2 linked regions of the Homo sapiens genome follow. The protein of the gene in region 1 purifies or fractionates together with the protein of each later gene. This does not show direct contact. Each region holds a gene or a part of one and is shown in the gene's direction. Other genes may lie near its edges.

What was found. The genes of interacting proteins can lie anywhere in the genome.
Region 2: the proteins of ATXN2L (region 1) and EDC3 purify together in Homo sapiens (affinity purification with mass spectrometry, with the first as the bait; one large-scale study listed by BioGRID). This does not show direct contact.

Annotation. Positions count from the first base shown.
Region 1 is NC_000016.10:28,829,499-28,832,998, forward strand, and holds part of ATXN2L (ataxin-2-like protein), read left to right. Parts: intron 1-359; coding exon 360-560; intron 561-1,116; coding exon 1,117-1,292; intron 1,293-1,463; coding exon 1,464-1,574; intron 1,575-2,688; coding exon of another isoform or gene 2,689-2,706; coding exon 2,707-2,901; intron 2,902-2,997; coding exon 2,998-3,069; intron 3,070-3,318; coding exon 3,319-3,389; intron 3,390-3,500. UniProt on the Homo sapiens protein: Involved in the regulation of stress granule and P-body formation.
Region 2 is NC_000015.10:74,668,525-74,672,024, reverse strand, and holds part of EDC3 (enhancer of mRNA-decapping protein 3), read left to right. Parts: intron 1-250; coding exon 251-570; intron 571-3,500. UniProt on the Homo sapiens protein: Binds single-stranded RNA. Involved in the process of mRNA degradation and in the positive regulation of mRNA decapping. May play a role in spermiogenesis and oogenesis.

The DNA of each region.
Region 1 (3,500 bases):
ATCTTGGTGCTCTCCAGGTGATGTGTTGGTGATATGGGGTCACTAAGTGAAGACAGGTTTCCAGGTAGAACATAGTTTTTGCTCATTTTTCTCTGGGTGTCCAGGGTCGCCATCCCTACTCCTACTCTGCCTTGTGGAATTCTTCCCTCAAAGGTTTTAAGCGTCTTAAGTGCTTCTCACATTCCCAGATAAGCCTTGGTGCTCTACCTGGGATGCAGTCGGTGCCCGTTACCCAGATGTTGAAGGGATTAAATACTTCCATGCCTGAACTGGTGATTGGACTTGTTGAAATGTTTTTCCTTTTTTCCTCTTTTGTCCCCTGGCACTGGGATGGTGGTGGTCTGTGGGTGCTGTCTCAGGGTGCCCTTAGAAAAGGACAACTCAGAAGAGTTTCGTCAGCGAGAGCTGCGTGCGGCCCAGTTGGCTCGAGAGATTGAATCAAGCCCCCAGTACCGCCTACGGATCGCCATGGAGAACGACGATGGGCGCACTGAAGAGGAGAAGCACAGTGCAGTCCAGCGGCAGGGCTCAGGGCGGGAGAGCCCCAGCTTGGCATCCAGGTGACTGTTGCAAACAGCCAGGACTACTTGGGGCTTCTGGGAATATCCTGGGGCCTGGGCCCAGAGTTGATGAGTGCTGTGGTTTAAGCCTTGTGACCATGTAAAATGTCATACACAGGTTTAGGAGGTTGAGGTAAAGCGAGATTATGTAATTTGCCTAAAGTAACAAAGCTGGAGCTTGTAGATCTAAAAAAAAAAAATTCAAAATTTATGTGCTATTTCTTTTTATAAAAGTGAAATATAACTACATTATTTGTGTCTTTTAAAAACTATCCCTGGAACTACGGTGTGATCCTACTTTTGTCATAGGTCAGGAGTTGTAGAATTGTGGAGCACTGGCCAGGTTGGTTGGCTCAGAGTTGATGTCACATGAGGTCATAAGTCCGTAGCCACAGAACGTTAAACTAGGGCAGATCTTCAAGTGGGATGGTGCTGGAGCCAGGCAGTGTGTGTATGTTTGGGGGCAGAAGGGGGAGACTTTAGAAGAAGAAATGGCTTCATCTTTCCAAAACGTGGGTTTTGTGGCTACCTGGCCTTATTTGAACTCTTTCCTCAGGGAGGGGAAGTATATCCCTCTGCCTCAACGAGTCCGGGAAGGTCCCCGGGGAGGAGTTCGATGCAGCAGCTCTCGGGGCGGTCGGCCTGGCCTTAGCTCTTTGCCACCTCGTGGCCCTCACCATCTGGACAACAGCAGCCCTGGCCCAGGTTCTGAGGCCCGTGGTATCAATGGAGGTGAGTTATGAGGTGACTTTGAGGAAGAGGGCAGGGAAGGGGATGCCAAGGAGGTGGGAGGGTAATTGGAGGGGTTTGGGTGTGTTGGAATGACGCTGCATCGGTGGGAATGTAATAGGTCGTCTGCCTCCTGACATTTTCTTCTCAAAAAAAAAAAAAAAAACCAAACAGGCCCTTCCCGCATGTCCCCAAAGGCACAACGGCCTCTGAGAGGTGCCAAGACTCTGTCTTCGCCCAGTAATAGGCCTTCTGGAGAAACTTCTGTTCCACCTCCTCCTGCAGGTAAAGCTTTAGTAGTGTTGGATGAAGAAATGGATGGAAATTTGTAAAGAGATGTAAATATGTCCATTTGTTACAGTGCTGGAATGGGAGATAATTTTAAGATAGATGTTTTGGGCATTTGGGATTTAGTCATATTGGGAAATAGTTCTTCGATTTCCCTAGTGCAGAAATCTCAACCTAGCAATCCATGGGTTGTGTCTGCTTGGCAGACATCTTTTGTTTAGATTTGAATCAGTTGCTAAGTTTTGTTTTGTTTTGTTTTTTTCTTTTTTTGAAACGGAGTCTTGCACTGTTGCCTGGGCCAGAGTACGGTGGCGCCATCTCAGCTCACTGCAGCCTCCACCCCTCAGATTCAAGCCATTCTCCTGTCTCAGCCTCCCAAGTAGCTGGGATTACAGGCACCCACCACCACGGCTGGCTAATTTTTTTGTATTTTTAGTAGAAGCGGGGTTTTATTATGTTGGCCAGGCTGATCTCGAACTCCTGACCTTGTGATCCTCCCACCTTGGTCTCCCAAAGTGCTGGGATTACAGGCGTGAGCCACCACACCCTGCCAGTTGCTAACTTTTTAAAACAGGCCGAGGTAGGCAGATTGCTTGAGCCCAGGAGTTTAAGACCAGCCTGGGCAACACGGCAAAACCCTTCTGCAAAAAATAAAAAGATTAGCTAGGCTTGATGGCGTGCACCTGTACTCCCAGCTACTTGCGAGGCTGAGGTGGGGGGAATCGCTTGAGCCCAGGAGGCTGAGGTTGCAGTGAGATGGCATCACACCATTGCACTCCAGTCTGGGGAACAGAGCGATACCCTGTCTCTAAATAAATAAATCAATAGAAGCCATAGAAAATTTTTAGTTTCTTTTGAATTACAGGAAATTCTGTCAACTGAGCTTGCCTTGCTGCGTAGCTTGAGTTGACTGGAACAGAATCCCTGCCACTCCTTTAAGCATTCCAGTTGTCGATGATGCCCATGAGGCCATTTACCTGCTTGTGTTACCTGCCTTGAGCTTCTAGACATTTAAGTTGGTGACTCTGGTTGTATAGTGTGTAAACTTTCTTGCTGTTTTGAGTAAGGCCCTTGTACTCACTGCTGTTGACCAGCAGTAACCATCCTACAGCTCCCCCTTTTCTTCCAGTGGGCCGGATGTATCCCCCGCGTTCTCCCAAGTCTGCTGCCCCTGCCCCAATCTCAGCTTCCTGTCCAGAGCCTCCCATCGGCTCGGCAGTGCCAACCTCTTCAGCCTCCATCCCTGTGACCTCATCAGTCTCAGATCCTGGAGTGGGCTCCATTTCTCCAGCTTCTCCAAAGATCTCCCTGGCCCCCACAGATGGTAAGAGCTAGGTGTTTGAGTGCTGTGAATGCATATTTAGTGTGATTTGTGGTTCTGGACAGAAGGACCTTTAGGCATTTCTCTTTACTTGAACAGTAAAAGAACTCTCTACCAAGGAACCTGGGAGAACTCTGGAGCCCCAGGAGCTGGCTCGGATAGCTGGGAAAGGTGAGGGTGGTTTTTTTTCTGCTGAGGATTAATGCTCCTTTGTCTGGGGGAGAGTATTTCAGTTAGGAAGTTTGTTGGAATTCAGAGGCAAACAATGTCTATCAGTCCTTGGATTATAATTTCACTTCTGTGATCCTCAAGAGTTTCTCTTTTTTCTTTGCTTTCTTGTCCTCTGTTCTTTTGGCACTGTGTAGCCACCTTAGAGAAAGAATGTTTTGTATTTTCTTCTTTTTGACTGTTTTCTCATAGTCCCTGGTCTTCAGAATGAACAGAAACGATTCCAACTGGAAGAACTGAGAAAGTTTGGGGCCCAGTTTAAGGTGAGAGAAGAGTGAGCTGGGATATTAGCAGGGTAAAGGGGTTGGGAGTGGTTCGTAGATGAGGCAAAGGACTAGATAGGAGTCAAAGAGATGAGATCAAAAAAGGATGAA
Region 2 (3,500 bases), on another chromosome or scaffold:
CTCCCAAAGTGCTGGGATTACAGGCGTGAGCCACCGTGCCCGGCCAATAGCCTCTTTTTAAAGGCTAGCATTGTGTCAGTTGGATAGTTGGTGGCTGACCCCTGTCCTTAAGCACACAGCCCCCTTTCCTAGCCTCTGATAACTCAATAAAATGCAGTCCTGCAAAGGGGTAGCTGTTTGCTAATGATCTCAGTTTCATCATTCTTACCACTATTATAATTTTGAGACTTGGCTTTTTTGTGTATTTCAGGGCAGGTGACATTACGGAGTTAAAAATTCTGGAGATACCAGGACCTGGAGACAACCAACATTTTGGAGACCTTCATCAAACAGAATTAGGCCCCTCTGGTGCTGGCTGCCAAGTGGGCATCAATCAGAATGGCACAGGCAAGTTTGTCAAGAAGCCAGCCTCTTCCAGCAGTGCCCCTCAGAATATCCCTAAGAGGACAGATGTGAAGAGCCAGGATGTTGCCGTTTCCCCGCAGCAGCAACAGTGCTCAAAGAGCTATGTCGACAGGCACATGGAATCCTTGAGTCAGTCCAAAAGTTTCCGTCGTCGGCACAACTCCTGTAAGTAGGGTCAAGTTGATATTTCTTCTCAATCTGGTGTTTCAGGGCTATAAGCCATAAGCACTGCTGCTCTTTAAACAAATCCTTTGTTATTCCAATAAAATGGATGCTGGCTGAGCGTCACAGAAATACAACATGGTTCTCTTCCTCCAGGCCTCATTCCTCAAGATGTTAAGGGAAAGGAAATAAGCTGTTAGGGATGCCTGTGAGCTTCCTGCCCTCTCTTACCACTTCCTTCAGGAAAAGTCTGCCCAGAGTTTACTAACAGTGATGTTTTAAATCCAGGAACTACTGGGCGTGGTGGCACGCATCTATAGTCCCAGCTACTTGAGAGGTTGAGGCAGGAGGATTGTTTGAGCCCAGGAGTTCAAGGCTAGTCTGGGCAAAATAGTGAGATTCTGTTTCTGAAAAAGAAAAAAAAAAAAACTTAAATCCTGTTACTGATGTTGGTAGTAGTGTTTGAGTTGAACCTGCACTTGGGCTGTTCCAGAGGATTCTTGAGTAACTTTTCTTCCTGTGATTTGAGTCTCATCCTCAGAAGAGAGGAGGGGACTGATCCAAACATCTCTGTGATCTTTGATTTTCTAGCAGACAATTTTTAATTTGCTGTATTTGTTCCTACTGACACACCAAGAAGAATGTGCATTGGTCTCTGTTGCTGCCCAGTTTTGTTTGATACTAACACATTATTAAATGCCATTTGCTGATTATAAAACCATAGTTGTGACCAGGCACGGTGGCTCACACCTGTAATCCTAGCACTTTGGGAGGCTGAGGCGGGCAGATCACCTGAGGTCAGGCGTTTGAGGCCAGCCTGGCCAACATGTTGAAACCTCGTCTCTGCTAAAAATACAAAAATTATCCGGACGTGGAGGTGCATGCCTGTAATCCCAGCTACTTTGGAGGCTGAGGCAGGAGAATCCCTTGAACCCAGGAGGCAGAGGTTGCAGTGAGCTGATATTGTGCCACTCCAGCCTGGGCGATAGAGCGAGACTCTGTCTCAAAAATAAAATAAATAATATAAAATAAAACCATAGTTGTGTTGGTGGTATGATGGTGAGCATAGCTGCCTTCCAAAACCATAGTTAATTCACTAGAACTGTTCTTCTCCAACATATTTACTAGAATAATGTTACAATAGCGAATCATAACATTCACTGGAATCTGTTATGCTCCTTAAATTAATATGAATGTTGTTTTAAAAAATTACTTCCAAATGCCAAACTATTCTTATTTTACTTAGATGGTTTTGTACTCACAGATGGTAGCAGAATGTATTAGAAATTTTAAGTGAGAGGCTGGGTGCAAGTGGCTCACACCTGTAATCTCACTACTTCAGGAGGCTGGGGCAGGTGGATCGCTTGAGCCCAGGAGTTCGAGACCAGCCTGAGCAACATGGCAAAACCCCATCCCTACAAAAAAAAAAAAAAAAAAAAAAAAAAAATTAGCTGGGCGTGGCAGCGTGCACCTGTGGTCCCAGCTACTCAGGAGGCTGAGGTGGAAGGATGGCTTGAGCCAGGGAGGCGGAGGTTGTGATTAGCCAAGATCATGCCACTGCACTTCAGCCTGGGTGACAGTGTGAGACTGTCTCAAAATGAACAACCAAAAGAAATTTTAAATGAGTATTCATTAACTCATTTAAAATTATAAGCTAGAGTCATGCTATGGCAATACCTTCTAAAAGGCACAATTTAGAGTGAGCTAGGTCTCTCTAGACCCCACTCAGAAAGTTTATTACATAAAATTCCGGATACTTCTTGCTACCATTGTTGCTCCTCACACTGTGGTCCTGGTGGCAATGTAGTAAGGTTTTAGTGTGCTGGGTGAATTCTATTAGTAGCTTGTGGTGTGACACCTGTGTCAGGGGCCAACATTTTAAGTTTTGGAGATGCCTGATTCAAGTGAATAAACAACTAAATTAAAACTAATTTTTTTTTTTTTTTGAGATGGAGCCTTGCTCTGTTGCCCGGGCTGGAGTGCAGTGGTGTGATCTTGGCTCACTGCAACCTCCACCTCCCATGTTCAGGTGATTCTCCTGCCTCAGCCTCCCTAGAAGCTGGTACTACAGGCACTTGCTGCCATGCCCGGCTAATTTTTTTTTTTTTTTTTTTGAGACAGAGTTTCGCTCTTATTGCCCAGGCTGGAGTGCAATGGCGTGATCTTGGCTCACCGCAACTTCCGCCTCCTGGGTTCAAAAGATTCTCCTGCCTCAGCCTCCCGAGTAGCTGGGATTACAGGCATGTGCCACCACGTCTGGCTAATTTTGTATTTTTAGTAGAAACGGGGCTCCATGTTGGTCAGGCTGGTCTCAAACTCTCGGCCTCCCAAAGTGCTGAGATTACAGGCATAAGCCACTGCGCCCGGCTAATTTTTGTATTTTTAGTAGAGATGGGATAATGCCATGTTGCCCAAGCTGATTTCGAACTCATGACCTCAGTTGATCTGCCTGCCTCGGCCTCCCCAAGTGCTGGGATTACAGACGTGAGCCACTGCACCTGGCCTAAAAAAATGTTTTAATGTATGTAATATACAGTTTCAAGGTAGTTTCCTTTGGTGCATATGAAACAACTATCTGAAATGACGATGTTTGCAAATATGAGACTGAAATTCAGTTGTGACTTCTGTATCCTTAGAAAAACTGTAGAATGCTTGGATAGAAAATGATTCTTTCCATTTAGACTTTAACCTTTTTCTTTCTTTCTTTCTTTCTTTCTTTCTTTCTTTCATTCATTTTTGAGACAGGGTCTTGCTTTGTCACTCAGGTTGGAATGCAGTGATACGATCACAGCTCACTACAGCCTTGAACTCCCAGGCTCAAATGATCCTCCCACCTCAGCCTCCTGAGTAGCTGGGACTACAGGTGTGTGCCACCATACCTGGCTAGTCTTTTTACTTTTAGTAGAGACAAGGTCTCACTATGTTGCCCTGTC